2 separate regions of the Homo sapiens genome follow, and region 2 is linked to region 1. Evidence: fine-mapped expression QTL. A gene starts in region 1. The other region holds a variant in brackets. All regions are shown on one strand. Distances are between the middles of the regions.

Region 1 (8,333 bases):
CCGCAACAGTGTGCCTGGGACACGTGCTGCTTGCTGTTTTACAGCAGGGTCCCGGGCTCTCTTGCCTTCGCTTTGGCAGCTTCCAGGCGAACCAGGCCACGTGCGGATTCAGGTCATCGCCTCTGTTGTGTCTCCTACCGGTGACTTGGCATTTGCGCCGGCGACTGGCGGCCACCGGGAATTCCGTAAGGGCGCCGGGAGTGGAGGGCAAATTAACACAACTGCCCGCTAACCCCCCACCCCCACCCCCAGGCGGCAAAAGGGAGCGGGAAATGTGGAAAGCGTCAGAAAAGAAATCCATCAAGGCGAAAGCACCACACAAAGGCGCGCAGGCCTCGCGTTCCTCCCGCCCTGCCCTGGCCAGCTCCAACGCCGGTGCCTGGTTCATATGCTACCAGGGCTGGCGACTCTCCCGAGGCCCTCTTTGTTGTGTGGGTAATTGTATCCCTCCTGGGTGGCGGGAAGAGGGAGCTGCAAAGGAAATTGGAATGAGACCTGAGGACTTAACACGAGACCTCCTGCCCGGGAGCCAATGCCAGCGTCTAAAGGGGCTTTCCGGTAATAATCCCCACTTCATTGATGAGGATACTTATTTTCTCAAATATAAAGTGCCATAAAAGCGCATCAATAAGCACTCCCTGTAACCACACTATCCTTCTTAAGCCCTTTCTGTATACAAATTCTGGAAATTCATACAATTAATTACATCTCAGAAATAAATAAATGGGGGAGTGGGAACACTTACAGTCTGAAGCTGATAAGTTTTTTTAGGGGGGTGGGGTCAGGAGACACTTCTTCACTCCAACAAGGAAAAAGAAAAACAATTTTCTCATCTCAAGCCTTTACAGAGGTAGGAAATAAAATTAAAGATAGATTCTGGAAATGGGTTGAGGAGCCTGTCGCACTTAAGACAGGGAAGCATAAATCCTCCCCCCTCTTTTATCTGGTGTCTCTTTTCTTTCTCTCTTTTCGGGACATGTCACCTCCTGACAGATCTCTTGCCTGGGATAAGGAGAGAGGTGCTCTCTCCTCTCTATGATAAAGCTTCTTGCCCCCTCCCAGTTCCCCATCTCTTGCCACTCAGGATGCCGCCCGCTCCCCTATTTATTTATTTATTTATTTATTTCTCTGAGATGTAATTAATTGTATGAAATGTCAAGGCTCAGTCTCAGTTTTATGCACCTTTCCCGCCCCTGACTTCTCCCTAACTCGTCAATAGCTTGATGCAAATTTGGAGCAATTAGGGACCTTGAGTTTTCTAAAAGCTGCAATTAACGTCGAAATTTCCGCTGATTATAGACTTTGAACACAGCCCAGGGGGAAAGGAGGAGGTCAGATCTTGGCTCAACGAAAGCCGGGGACTGAAAACTCTTATTCCTGCTGGGGCTCCTAGCTCTTCATTCCGCCCCCTGCGCTGACCCCTGTCGTCCCACGGAGCAAAGAAACCACACACAACAGAATAAAAACAACACCCTGGCTGCGCGCCCCTCCTCCTCCGCGAAGCCCTCAACGATCGCCGCTGCTCGGACCTTGCGTGGTCCTCGCTTTCCGGTGCCCTGGGAGTCACCTAGCGTCCCTGACAGCCGAATGACCTCTGGCAGGGACGGGGTCAGAGCCCCATTTATTTCCCAGCCTCCATTATCTCCGCGCTCCCCCTTCCCTTTCCGCCAGCTCAGCCTCCCGACGTCCCAGCGCCCCCATCTTCCCTGCAGTTCATTTGATAGAAAATTGGGGCGGGACCTACTTGTGGGGCGCAGGTTAGTGGTATTGGGGTCCGCTCCCGCGTTCGAGGAGGTTGCGGACGAAGATGGGGTCGAAGACGCCATCAGCTCGGTCGTCCCGGGGCCTCTACTGTCCAGAGTCCTCGACTGGTCCGGCGCAGAAACAGGCTGCAAAGAGAAGCGAGAGCTGTGCGGGGAGGACTTCCGGGGTCCTGCACACCGGAGGGACTGAGCAGCCGGGGGCACGGAGGCTCCCCTTGAAGATCCGGCTCTGGAGAGACAAGAGGGAGGAAAGGCAGCGAGCCTGCCTGGTAGGGGTGCGCAGGGGTGGGGGCAGCGGAGGAGACGTGCGCGCTAGCTCCGGTACTGGGGCGCAGGGAGCGTAGCCCTGGGCCGCTCTCGAGTCTGGCGGTGCATCGGCGCGACCTGGAGTGAAGCGCCGAGACGAGGCGGGGTCGGGGTCGGGGTGGGGGTCCAAGGCCAGTACAAGACGCAAGGGTGTGGGGGACTAGGCTAGGAGCACAGGGGAGCGCTCAGTGAGCGATTTTCCAGCCGAGCCGCTACAAGCCCCATTGGGCACTCAGCAGCCGGCGTGTGGGCCAGCGGGGGGAGGGCGCACGGGGCGGGCATGTCTGGTTCGGTGTCTGGTTCCCGTTGTTGTGTCTGGCTAATTCCCTGGAAAGAAAGAGGCTAACTGCTCCGGGGACTAGGGACTTTGGTGAGACAAGGTGAGAGGGGGAAAAAGGCCCATATCTTTACGTTCTCCCTCGGACTTGGCCAGAGAAGAACCACAGTCACCTTGCACTCCAGACAGCCAGAAAGCAGCGAGTCGGAATGTTGCTTGCCTCCCTCTTATCCCAGCCGGTTTTTAGCCATCGCTAAGCCTAGGGCGAGGTTTCGGTCCGGTTTCAGCGTTTCTCCTCTACCTAGCCCCCTGAGGACCCCAGATTTCTCGCGGTACAGATCCAGAGAGGGTGGGGTAAGTAAGCATGGGGAACGTCACCGGGGAAACGAACTTGCGCGCAGCGCGCAGGAGGCGGCGGACAAAGATCTTGCGCGGCGCCCCTGCTCGACTCTCGGCGCTGGCGCGATGGCGCCCGAAGGCCCCGGGACAGAGAGATTGCGGGCTAATCTGGGTAGATCGAGGACCCCACAGAGAAGGGCCCACCGGCCATCGCCTCCACACCCTCCCTCCGACCTCACTCCTAGCCCCGCGCGCGCAGTCGCACAGCAACTCGGGCAGCGGGTCGACTACGGCCCCTGGAAAAGTAACAGGTTACCGTTCCTAGTAGCGCCTTCGGCTGCTGCTGCCCAGGCGCCCTTTGGAGGGACAGGCGCTCGCAGCATGGAAGCTCAAGGGAAAATCGCTCTTGCCCCACTTCAACTAGAGCCTCAGCCTCCGTGCTTCCCCGGGGCGTGAATCCGGAGGGCAGGGATAAGAAGAGTGACGAGGGAGGCGGGGGGGGGGGGGTCCCTGCGCAGCGCACCCGTGGAGAGCAGGGACTAGGGCGGGCAGGAAGCACTCATTTCGGGAGGTTGGGTGGCCGGCGCTGGGATGGGGTTGGTTGAGAAGCCGCGGGAGGAGAGGACCTGGCTGAAAAGCCACGGTTGGGCGCTGGGAAGTCCAGGTGGTCGCTAGCTTACCCACCTCGGCTCTGCGACAGCGAGCCGGGCACTCCCGCCTTTCCTCTGCACAGCGCCCAGCGATCCGCTCGGCTCGGCCCTGACAGGCGTAATCTGCCCGGCGTCACCTCCAGCTGCTTCCTCGTTCTCGCTAGTTCCCTCTCGCACGCGAGCGCCAGGAGAAGAGAGAGATTCGGAGAGGCGGCTGCACGGCTCCGGGGTAGGCGGGGGCAGAGTGGGGAGGCGGGGACCGGATCGGCGGGGAAATCACGAGGCCGTTGCTCGCGGGGGCAGCTAGTCGGCGGAGCGGCGGGGCTCCTCTGCAGGTGCCTGACCGCCTCTGGAGCTTTATAGGGCGATTATAAATCCAGCTCACGGTTTTGCGCCCGGAAGGAAAAAAAAAAGGTCTTATGAGTAATCCAGAACGTACTCAACACGCTTTTTTTTTTTCCTTTGGAAATAGGCAGGCTGTCGGGTGAGAGGAGGGAAAAGATAATTCCTACGAAGAATTCTGCCTTTCTGAGCGTTTCTTCTTCCCTCCCCTCCTTTCCCCTCTCCCATTTCCCCTCCCCCTCCCATATATTGTAGGAGACGAGCGGCGGTTTTGCCTCAGTGCTTTTCCCCGGGGTTCCCCCAGATCTGTGACCCTGCGACGCTTCCTTGAGCGAAAGCGCGCTTTGGGTCGTGTCCTCGTTGGCTCTCTACGGAGCTGGGATTGTTGTAACCGCAAAGGAGGCAGAAATGAGGGGAGACCTCTTAGACCATGGAGGAATTACAGTTTCCTCATCCAGCCCTGGGCCCCATCAAAGTACCACACCTGGCCACAGCTACCCAGTGCCACCGGCAGAGAAAAGGACCCCGCGTCCCTTTTGCTATGCGCTCGCTCCTCGCTTTGGCCCCCTTGGTGATGGGAAAAGAAGGCCTCCTGATTAATCACGTTTGAAGGTTGATGACACGCACGAGCGCCGCTGCACGCGCATGGGGCACCCGAGCACAGAGGTGCCCGGAAGGGGCGGACCAGCCCCCCTTGCCCTGGCCCGCTCCCCCTTCGATTTCACGCGCTTTAAGGATTCTCCCTTTGCAATATTTAGGCGTAGTTAAAAGAACCGCTGCGTTGGGAGAAGCCCCTCGCCGTAAAAATGCGTTGAAAGAGAAATTCCCACCAGAGGGCGCCAAGAGCCCAGAGACGGAGAGGCCCTGCGCTCCCGGGTCTCTCCGCCAGCGCCCGAGCGGAGCCCACACCTGGAGCTGCTGGCCAGACGGTTACGCGCCGGCTTGCCTCTTCATGCCTTCCCTCACCGCCCTGTCACTAGTTTAAGTTCTCCCCTTTCTTCTCCCCCAGTTTTTTTCTTTAGGGCAAAAATGTTGATGTCTGTGCGTGTCTGGGTGACACCGTGTAGGCAGTGATTCCTTTACTGGTATTTACCGTGGTCCTCCCCCTCTCCCCAGGTGGTGCAGCACGCAGGGGTTATTTATGCGCACGTCTGGGGCCTCACTGGTTCAGCGGAGGCCCGTCCGTTTTCTTTGAATGCCTTATCGCCTTTCACCACAACACAATGGAAACACACACAAAAATATTATAAATTACCGAGAGTTCCATAAGGGAGATCGAAGGGTCCGCCCTGGGCAGACATGGCCTGATCAGCAAGAGGGATCTCGCTGTGGGGTTTGAAATAATCGCGTTGCCTTTGGTACTAAAGAAACTACTGTTTTGTCGCCTTGTCTCCACCTGACGATGAAATCCCCGGCACTTTTTAAGGACACAAAAAACATCCTAAACGGCGGGGCGCGCGGTGACTGCAGCCCCGGGCACTGAGGCTTGGGGCTGGACAGGCTGGGGGTGTCTGCTCCACGTAGGAAACGTCCCCCCAAACCACTCAACCGGCAGCTGCTCTGCGCTGCTTGAAGTGGGCGGCATACAACCAGGTGAAGCTCGGAATTCCATCCACCGGCCCTCCTAGAGCCTTCCCTAAACGAGACGCTCGCACCAATCAGGGAGCCAGGTGCCAGTGCTAAATCATTCAAGACGCACGGGGCAGGAGACAGGAAGGAGGAGGCAACACATCTCCCGGTGCCCCTCGTTCTTCATTGTCCAGCATAGACGCCCGCTCGCCTCAACCTTTTCCCAAAACCCGTGATTCCCTGGAAAGGAAGATTCGTTTACTTCACCTGTGGCACGAGATTGAGACATTTCCAACCACTTCCTCCTTTGACCCCAGAGTTCAAAACACCCCTAACGTTTTAGCCAATGAAATAATCTCGTTGGAGAAGGAATCTCCTGCAAGGCTAGGTAACGCAAGCTGAAGCTGAGTCCGTCCAGCTTCGAGGACATCCCTCTCTTTCTCCTTTATGGTGAGTAGGGGAGGAATGAAGACTTTTGTCCGTCCTTGTTTAGAATGTTTAATTGAATATTAGCAGTAATTGATTAAACGAATATTTATTAATCCCCTACTATGTGCCAAGCACTTATTTTTTGGAGCTTGCATTGTCCCTGCGGTTTATATTATCCTGCACGCCGGGAGTGGACATTCCGGTGAGGCAGGGAGAGGAGCGCACTTAGAAACTTCATAAATTTGATTTAATTTTCAATGATCTCCTCCAACTCGAACTCTTGGGCACAGCAGGAATGGTAATGAATTGAAGGCCTGGAATTCCACTCCATCCAGATTACTGAGTTTTGAGGTAGGGCATAGATCTTTCAGCACGAAGGACAGCGCCCGTCCTTCTGGTCCCCATGCCTCTGTTTCGTTTGCTTCCGCCAATAGCTATGGGCCAACCCACCAGACTCGCCCCAGCCCTCCTCCCTCCTGACAGTAACTGCTGTTTGTTTTGCCTAGTTGGGGGGTGAGGTATTTCGCCCACTGCTCTTCTCTCCGGTAGGAATTTGAACTAAGAGTGGCCGTGGTTGTCATTCGGCTCTAAACAACATTTGAAACCTATATTTTTGTTTATGTCTTTCACTCTTCCTTTAATCTTTTATCATTCCTGGGGGAGGATTCTTGGGATAATGGGGGTGGAAAAAAGATATCCTCTCCGGGGACTCGAACCGGTGATGAGGGGTGGCCCGGAAGGGAGTGGTGTCCGCCCAGCTGTTTCGATTGTATTTGAAGCGCTTTGAAGAAATGGGAACGCGGCGCTCAAAGGCAGAAGAAGGAGGGGGCGATATGCGACCCCTCCAGTCTCTCTCCGGCATTAGGGATTTGCGAGCTTGCAGCCCCGGCTACTCCACCCTGTCTGCCGAGGATAACGTTTCCTTAGGTCAACCACCGCTGGGACTTGGGAACACGACCCTCCGCCCACAATGCCCTTTATTCCTTTCCCCGTCGTGGGTGGGTGGGGGATTGTTTAAAGATATTCCAACCGGATTTGGGGCCAAGCCTTTTCTGCAAAGGGAAAAACGGGTGAGTAGGAGGAGCGTGAGGCGTTGAAGGAGCGCCCAAACGGGCTGCGGGGAGATCTTCACGCCTAAAACGTGGTCAGTCAAGGTGAGTAGACAGGACACGTCAATTTTTTTTGACGCAATTAGAATTTTTAGCCTCCAGGAAACGTAATTTAGAGCCATGGTATTGGTTCGTTTCAGCTGGCTCCTTAAAATCTATTTTAAGTGTCTAATTTATGACCAGAAAGGAAAAAAAAAATGGCAGTGCTCACCGGTTAAACGTCTGTCTCCCGAGACGAGAACTGGGGGAAGCGTTACTTAACCTTTCATTCTGCTTAAGTCGGAGCTAAGGTCCATTTGCTGTTTTTGTACTTTAAAGATAGTTCCCTGAATTATTCTGGACTTTTTTGAAGGATCATAGCTAAATCCACACCCCCATCCCAACAGACCACACAACACTCACAGCTGGGAGGCAGGAAAATGTTAAAAGGGTGAGAGGGGGTGGGAGGGGTGACAGCAGAATGCTGGAAGGCTGGAGAGGACTCTAGGAATTACAGCCACTTTTTCTAAAGAAGAGAGCTGGATTCTTCGGATAACTGGCAAATGGTCCTTCCCCCTTGATAGTCAGAAGATGAAAATATTCTAATACAAATAAATGAATCAAGGAGGACAGGGTGATTTGTGTTTGGGCAAATCTCCTTGTGCAAATCTTGAAACGTCCAATTCTTGCTATTCTAAACTCGAAGACAGAATGACCACCAGGTGGCAATAGATTACAATTTCTGAGAAGAAACAACAGGCCTCCCAAGGGAGCAGTTCTTCAAGGAAGAATGCAGGCTCATACTCATCCCTGCCAAATTTCACAAAGCAGGGCCTTTTCAAATGGTCAGAAGTGCTCTGGAAGTGACCTGAAACACCTAGGGTAGTGCGTCTCTTTGGTGAAAGACTAGGGGGTGCATGGCATCTGTTTTTTTCCCACCTAGCTGTGTCTCAAATGTAGTGAACCTGTGAATATTAGGCAAGAAACTGATTCACTGCAAAACTGGAAACCAAGGAAATACAGTTCTGGATTGTAATTCTGATGGGGAGCTTTAAAGGTATATCTGTGTCTTCTGATCTCAACAAAAACCAAGGCGAAATCAGTCCTTCCCCAAAAGGGTGGGATGCAAAAAGGAGGATTTCCCACCTGAGATGCTTTAGTGAAATACAGAATTCATGGGAGACTGAGGAGAGTAATATTTTATTCATTTCTTTTAGTGTAAAAGCTCTTGGACTACTTAAAATAACAGATATTTAGTCCCCATTTTCAAACATAGGTATCTGGGACTGTTGTTTGTGAAAAGGTTCTGGAAAGTTCTGACTTAGTTGTGGCGAATCTAATAACTTAAACTTCTATTCCAGGCCAGGTTTCTTCCCCTAATCCTGACCAGTTACTCAGGGGAGGAAACTGGAACTTTAACAGAAGGGGTGCATGATTGATTGCCGTTCCCATTAGGCCCCACCTTCAACATTGGGGGTCACATTTCAGCACGAGATTAGAGAGGACAAACATCCAAACTATATCAAATATTGTGACAATAGCTGACGAATACACTCTCCTATACCAAGAA
Region 2 (8,333 bases), 440 kb after region 1:
TTTGTATTACACTTTAGTGATTTAGACATTGAAGGTAACAATCCCCAGAGTTAGACTCAGCATAAACAGGTCCAGTGCAATTAACAGCTCTATTAAACATGCATATTTTAAATGGGGATTATCACAGACTTCAAATTTAGAATTCAAGCTATATTAACTTCACTATTTCCCTAAATGAAGCTCTTTCTTATGAAGAACAAACAACTTCTTAAGGGTTAATTGAAATATTTTATCAAATTTTATCAAACAAAATATTTTCAGCTGATATAATCCATCATTAAGGCTACAATATAAAGAGCTTTATTGCAAAAATCCAAATCCTTTTCTCTTCATCATTCTAGGGGCTATCTAAATAAACACAGCACAGGATCATAGTCACAGCAACTGAATGCTCCCTGAACTTCATCCCATAGCTACACAAACAATTAAATTTTCAAATGACCTTAGGAGGACATGGTCTACAACAGAAAGTTCAGACCATTCACATGAAACAAATGTCTTCAATGAGAATTGTCTACTAAATATTTAGTACCTCATCCAGAACCTCTAGGTTGACCAAATCATCCTCAAGGCAGTATTTTTCAGCATCTTCCACATGATAAGGTCTTCTGGTATGCATCCTCTCATGCCTAGAAATTTATCAAGAGAGTTTAAGCATTAAGACAGCAAATAATGTAGCAGAAAGCGGGCAGCAAGCATGGCTCATTCACAATCTTATCACGTGATATGTTCAGAGACTTCAGAGACAGGGACAGGAAGTCCAGTCCAGGTCCCCAGGCTTTTCCTGCCACTGTAGAACTATTGGGATAAAGTGATCTCCATAGTTCAAGTCTACTTCCTGCCAGAGTGAGGAGTGTTACCAAATGGGCCCACCTAATACACATACTTGCTTTTCTTAAATGCCAAAGACAGCACTTCCAGAATAAACACCTCTGACTTCTGCTCAGTGTCAGGCACATAGTTCTCACTGGGGTATAGCCATAAGTGCCTTACTTCCCTTGAGGTCCCCTTGCTTTATCTACCAGCACCACCCCCAACTTTTGTGATAGTTTTTAACCTACGTAACACTTTCAGAGATTAATATAGTAAATACCAAATAATTGATCACTGTTTATGTTTTTTCTTATTCATGTGAAATCCCTTTGTGACCCTTGTCCCATCCCACTCCTCTCTCCTGAGGTGACCACTATTTGATGGGTTTCCTTCCAGTCTATTTTTAAATATTGGTCATATGCCTATAGATACCCATGAGCAATATACAGGTTCTGTATGTTTAGTTATAAAAATGATATCATACTTAGGTTTTATACTGTAAGCTTACTTTTTTCATTAAACATTATGATTTTTAAACTCTATTTATCTATCTATCTACCTATCTACCTTACCCACTTACCTACCTACCTAGTTCAGTCACTTTAATCACTGGGTAGTATTATACTTTATGAATATGTACCTATTTATTTACTCAGTCCGATGGGGGGGGTTGTTGTTTTTAAAATTTTATTTATTTATTTAGTAATTTTTAGAGATGGGGTCTTGCTCTGTCACCAGGCTGAAATGCAGTGGCATAGTCATAGCTCACTGCAGCCTCAAACTCTTGGGCTCAAGCAACCCTCCCCACTCAGCCTCTCAACTAGCTGGTACTAGAAGTATGCACTATTGTGCCTGGCTAATTTTTTAAAATTATTTTTTGTAGAGATGGAGTTTTGCTTTGTTGTCCAGGCTAATCTCAAACTTCTGGCTTCAAGTGATCCTGCCACCTTGGCCTCTCAAAGTGCTGGGATTACAGGCATATGCCACTGCACCCGGCCTACTCAGTCCTATGTTGATCAACATTTAGGCTGATTCCAATTTTTTTGCTACTAGTAATAATGCAACACTTAAAACTTTATACACATCTTTTTGTGTATATATGTGAGTTTTTCTCCTGGAGGGCACTGTTCACTAAGGATTTAAAAATCTTGTTTGATAATCAGTAATAATCCCCTCTGGTATACTAAAATATAGCTCTTTAAGGTTTAAAATTAATTCAAGGTCAAAGTAGGCCTTCCCGTAATTCCTTTCATAAACTCATCACTCCTCAATGCGGTTTAGGAGGAAAGCATTGGCTAGAAGAGCTCTGGACCCTAGTTTCAGAGTTGCGAGCAATGTGGTATGAGACACTCAGCAAATCCCTTAACAGCCAGTATATCGGTTTTCTTCATCTATAAATAGAATTACTCATAACTGATCTGTCTATCTCCCAGGTAGCTGTGAAAGCACATATAGTCATGGATATAAAAATGCAATAAAGTTGAAAACATGTACTAATTATTATTCTTACATCCTTGTTAACATTTGGAATCAACAATTTGCATAACTACACACATTACTCTGAATATCATTGACTAAACAAAATCATACATAAACTGTCCTACATACTGTAAATTCACTAGCCCAGAAGCATAACTTCTTGATTCTTCTCTGTCACTTTTGTGCCCATCAACATCACAGCTTATGAGGATATCACCCACCAATACAATTCTATCTAGCTAGATCCTAGAAGCTGGTGTTGACTGAAAGTTTTATGGTAAGTACCAGCTAGAAGTCATGGAATCTTGATGTACACCCCACCCTTTGGTATGCATTTCACAAAAGTAGGTAAAAAGGAAGAAGCAAACTTATCAGCTCTGCATATTGAGTCTTGAGTTTATAATGCAATATTAATGGCCAAATAAAATGGATTTCTCTCTTTCTAGCCTATTAAGTTAAATCTTACCTTTCAATCTCCATCACTGATAAATTTGAAAAGAGATATTTGAAGCATGCTATTAGTCATCTCCAGTCCTAGAACCAGTTTTGCTGCTAATTCATATAAAGGTCCAAAGTAGAATGAAGCTTAATTTTTATTTAATCAAATCAAATTTATAACCTAAGCAGTTTAAAATTATTAAACAGAATTATTTATCTGTGACTTTACATATTGGTGATGGCAAAGAAAAATCAAATTGGTTTGTAATACAGATTTTTACTAAAACTCAGAGCTGCTGCCTGCCTCTAGCTAGCCATTTTGTTAAATAAAACAGCAGGAGGATACATATTTCCGATCAAAATCCCCTTCACATAAAACCTAAGAATAATTTTGCTTGAAGTTAATCAAAAAACAAAATACTGGCTGGGTACAGTGGTTCACGCCTGTAATCCCAGCACTTTGGGCGGCCAAGGCGGGTGGATCACAAGGTCAAGAGATTAAGACCATCCTGGCCAACATGGTGAAATCCCGTCTCTACCAAAAATACAAAAATTAGCTAGGCGTGGTGGTGCACGCCTGTAGCCCCAGCTACTCAGGAGGCTGAGGCAGGAGAATTGCTTGAACCCGGGAGGCAGAGGTTGCAGTGAGCCGAGATCAAGCCACTGCATGCCAACCTGGCAACAGAGCAAGATTCCGTCTCAAAAAAAAAAAAAAAAAAATTGTACCACATTTTCATGAAATAATTAAATTACCATATTAAATTCAGCTAGTTTGTCTCCTTCCTACATTTATATCTTATAATTGCATATTCTGCACATCATTTGACAAAGAAAATCAATAATTAAAAAATTACCTCAGATCTGGTTCTGGTCAAGATGGAGTAAGCCCTCTCCACTCCTCACTGAAGACAACTAAATACCCTTGTCAGAATGCATGGAGCAGCTATCTTAAGACTCTGAGAAGTAAATTGTAACAGGCAGACTGGGGAAGGAAGTCAGAACTCAAAATACCACTGAACCAATGGTGAGTTTTCCAGGCTTTTTTTTCCTTCAGTAACTCCTGACCTGGATTTAATGGCAGCCTGAGCTGCATACAGAAATGCCAAGCTTCACATTGGATGACATTTTTATAGCCAACTAAAAATGGAAGCATGGACCAAACCTTACTTGCAATCTCACAAATAGATGCAGTCTAGTAGAAAGTTTTAATTTTCAGTGTGAATATACACAATGCAATATCACTAGGATCAACATTGGTATCTTCTGAGCCTGAAGGAGATTGTGTGCTATGCCAATCTGTCTCACAGATATAACTTCCAAGAATCATGCAGATGTTGTCTGCAAATCTGAGCTTGATTCTTGTAAAAAATCTTCCCCAATAATATTGTATTAACAAAAAATAACTTTTTAAAAATTTTAACTGCTATTAGTAGCAATGTGTGGCCTCTTTCCATGCTTACAGGTGATCAAATTCTTTAGAAATATTTGCTCCTAAAAGTGAAGTAGGCAATCTAGAAGTGGATGTAGATGCAAGACTTCTCTACTCTGATAAAGACCACTTCGTTTTCTCAACCAGAAAAAATATATATATGTGTAGCACTATTTCTGCCTTCCACAACTAGTGTTCTTTGGAAACTGCTGCCCGCTTAACTTTCCTCCTCTGGCTATGGGGTTTGGAGGGTCTATCGTAGAGAAAAAGCATTATTTATTTCAATTTTTATCTCCTTTAAAAACATTTTCCTAGACTTTGCATAAGCTTATAAAAAGCGTTACGTTGTTTTATATTTCTCTATTTTTAGTTGAAATTAATAAAAATAAACTTGGTTTATTTTTTTAATTTTATTGAGTTAAGTGATTTGTGTCATTAGTAACTATAGATCTTAATTTCCTTTAAATTCACATGCTCCATCTAGTGCCCTACTTGAGAATAGGACCTATTATCAATTTTTGCTGAAGAATTCCTCGTTTAATGTGAAAATTACAGATCTCCAACTAAAAGCTACTTGGATCGAGTATTCCAAAGCTCAGAGGAATGGAGACATAGATAAATGAATGGATAAACAGCAAAAAACATTCTACTAAATCAAAAGTATGTGGTAAGGCACTGTAGTTTTAATGGCTCAGAAGACGTTTTCAAATTCCAGTAAAGTTTATATTGCTTTTCTTAGATTTCCTACTTGTTTTTATGA[G/C]TTTGTAAGTATGTTGGCTGCCAAGGCTGGCTTCTCAGACAAACAGAGTTTGCGAGTTGGAGCTTAGAGGGAAAGTCTTGGCTTGGACTGGTTCCTGGAGTTTGCTTTTGGTGTGGCAGTGGAGCGGGAGACTGTGGAGAGCAGGACGGGCCTTAGGTTTCAGGGATCAGGTAAAGGGGAAACTGGTGCCTGAATCCATGGATCAAGTAGGGTGGGAATGAGGGCAAGTCTGTACCATCAAGTCCAAGGAAATGAGTGCAGCGTAAGAATAGAATCTGAAGAACGGGAAAGACAGAGCCAGAGGTAGAGGCTGGGAGTTCCCCTAAGACAACAGTGGGCATAGATGAGGTAGAGGATGGGGGTCTTTGTTCAAATCTTTGGCCCAGCCAATGAGTGGGAAAGGAGCTTTAGAGGACACCAAACTGGTTTAAACACTAGAAGAATTATTCTCATGAAATAAACTCCTAAAGTGTTGCAGCTTTCACTCTAGTTTAATCTCTGTATCTGCATTATGGTTAAAACCATTTCTGTGTCATTGTTCTCTAATATCTCATCACTGGGCCTGCTAGCTTCTTTGTTTGAGCTGCTAGTCCTATGAACTATATTGACAAACATATTTTGCCCAAAAGTGACTCATTAATCAATTAGCCTCTTTCTGTCTGCCAGTTATGCCTATGGAAGTGGAGGCTTCCATGTAGGTAGGTACAAACAGAGCTGCAAGAACTTCACGTAGGTGAGACAGGATACGCTCTTCCTTTCACTCCCCAACTATGATGAAGAACAAGTAATAGAAAAAGGTGCTCTAAATCATAACTCAAACATGAGAAGGAAACAAATTCTTCTAGCTTATCAATTCAGCCTAATAATAATAACAACAAGCAATATACTCCTAAGAAGTTAATCTCTGCACTGAGAAATGCCTGCTGGCTTCTTAGAGAGTCACCCTGTGTCAGCACCATTGTGAAGGTCACCTCTGCCTCTGCTCCTCCACACCCAGGATAAGAACCCTCTCCTCCGTCCAAGAGTGGAACTGCAAAAAGTGGAGAATGACTATCACTGTTACCAGATTCCAGATGGAAAAGGAAGTAAAATTTGTTGCGGATAGAGGCAAAAAAAAAAATAGAGAGAGGGAATAAGGAAAAAGGTGCAGGCTCAAAGATGTCAGTCCTCAAGAATCTAGGACAAAAGCCTCCATGGCCATAGAGAGAACTCAGGGATCACTCCCTTATCACTACATTCAATGGATTCCATACAAGAAAGAAAACATTACTCAAAACTGAGAATAGAGTACTGTTACTACACCAAGGTCAGTGATGTTGAATATTTCTTCTAAATCTTAATTTCCATTCAATATACCCTTTGATAACAGAGCCAATGAAAGAGGGACTTTTATTTTACCGTAACTATATAATAATGGACCTCAAACGAGAAAAACAATAGCAGACCTTTGAGGAATGACATTATTCTACTGAGAGTCAAATATGGACAGAGATAGCAGCTGGATACCTTTAACTACATGAGCTGTATCTTGACCCTGAACTTAAGGCTATGTCTTTCAAACAATACAATGCATAAATTTTAAAATAGGAGAATTGTTTGGGTGGAAATTATTATAGTATCTGCCCATTTTTCATCTAAGCACCGTTTTGGCCAGAATCCCAATAAATCAGCATCTTATCATTAATCATATTAAACAGTATTTGATATACCCAACTTCTCTAAGCGGCAAGAATCAGTAACACCAGCATAAAATTAATATTAACTAACTTACTCATTTGTAGATAGACAGATATAGGTATAGATAGATAGCAGATACTAATTATAGCAAGGTATAGATTTATTTCTTCTGTTAGGAAGATAAAAGGATATTTAACCTCCTGTGTGTTAAGCTTCTTCAGCACTTTATGAAGTAATCTTTCTGGAGTTACTTATTTACATAAGAACCCAATAACCCATTAGTGTATATAATATGGGGTGCTCTGTGTGTGTGTGTGTGTGTGTGTGCATGCATGCACATATTTGAAGGTAGAAGAGGGAGAGAGTGAGCAAGGATTACTGGGGAAAACTAGCAGTTAAATAGTGAGAAATCTGTTTTTAAAGGTCATTGCTGCAGGTTGAAAAGAAATCAAAAGCTGAAGTCATTGTTTTAATCAGCCTCAGGCAAATTGCAAGGGCGACATGACAACCCATTAAACAGAGCAGAAAAAAAAAAAACCCAGCAACTTAATTCTTCTACCAAGTAATACTTAGAACAGACCCTTGGCATTTAGGGTTTAACATCTGTGGTTTCAGCTAGTACCAAGCCACCTGCAGGGGCACGGCATGCTGGATCTTGTAATTTTACTGAGGTTCACGGTTGAGTTCATGGTCGTGGCAGAGACAATCGAGTCCTTTCCCTGCCTCCACTCACATTCCAGAGAGTGGTTTCACTCTTCTCCCAATAACCCTTGTAAAATGATACAAAGCATGTTTTCAATCTACTTCTCTGAACTTTAACAGTGAGATGACATACCAGATGATACTAATGAATTCAGGGATTTGCAAAACTGGTTTGGGGAAGAAGTCGTCTTTTTGCAGATCAAGGAAATAGGTGCTGATATAAAGGAAATGACCAAATAGTTTAAAAACACCTCCAACAGATGAAGTAACAATGTACTTTCAGCCCATTGTTCACATAGTTTTAGGGCTTCTTTAGCCCTTTAGGGCTTACTCCTTTAAAAGAGTAAGACTTGGATTAATAACTGCTCTATTGTACCTGAATCAAATACATGCATTGGCACAATTATAATTTACTGGAAAAACTTAAATTCCAATGATGTCATACATACACTATAATCAGCATCAGGTAATGGTATCTATCAAATCTCAAATAGTACAATATCACTTCTCCACAGGTGCCTCTGCTGTCCTGTATCTATATCTGTAGTGTGTGTGTGTGTGTGTGTGTGTGTGTGTGTGTGTGTGTGTATGTATGCATATATATATATAGAGAGAGTGAAATAGGGATGAATCACATCCTGGCTTTCCAAAAAGCACTCAGAAAAGCCTGAATGGTTAGACCCAGGAGAGGTGAGACAGGGGACTTACAAATTCAAGCCCTCCAAGCACAGTACAGCTTCTGCTCTATGTGAACAAGCCCTCCATGATTCTTAGCCTTGTTTTTGAATACTCTTGAATATGTGCCATAACTGAGATGGATCTGATCTAAGAGTTCCTCAACCTGTCAACACTTAAAAAACATTTCTTTCTATTCCACCGAAGTTGCCCACAAGCTCAGCTATCCTTAGTTCCTAATTATCTATCAAAAGTTCCTAGGATCTCAGTTCTACAATCCCTTTTCTCATCATCCCCTCACTGAATCTGCTCTTCATCTTTGTTGTAATAGCCAGTCCCAGGACTAGATCAGCCTCAAAG

Alleles and levels. Positions count from the first base shown, and alleles are read on the strand shown. Sizes are in standard deviations (SD) of each study's normalised expression.
In carriers of allele G in region 2, the expression in tibial artery of the gene that starts at base 3,531 in region 1 tends to be lower than with C alone (moderate effect, 0.45 SD a copy in GTEx).

What was found.
Region 2: its variant is fine-mapped to the expression of GAD1 in tibial artery (GTEx, PIP above 0.99). The same link has a PIP of 0.9 or more in aorta and coronary artery.

The regions. Positions count from the first base shown.
Region 1 is chr2:170,812,085-170,820,417 of GRCh38, reverse strand. GAD1 (glutamate decarboxylase 1) reads right to left here and starts at 3,531. Exons shown (of 17, transcript NM_000817.3): 1 at 3,370-3,531; 2 at 1,745-1,889. The coding sequence starts at 1,826. GAD1-AS1 (GAD1 antisense RNA 1) reads left to right here and starts at 1,767. Exons shown (of 4, transcript NR_197761.1): 1 at 1,767-2,032; 2 at 2,503-2,700; 3 at 3,386-3,564; 4 at 3,933-5,795. RefSeq lists enhancers at 1,094-1,616, 1,617-2,140, 3,380-3,549 and a silencer at 3,637-3,716.
Region 2 is chr2:170,374,312-170,382,644 of GRCh38, reverse strand. It overlaps MYO3B (myosin IIIB), which reads right to left. Exons shown (of 35, transcript NM_138995.5): 10 at 533-629. Among named protein-coding and RNA genes, the nearest start is that of MYO3B-AS1, 28 kb to the right of the region's middle. The variant G/C (reference allele first, on the strand shown) is at 4,920.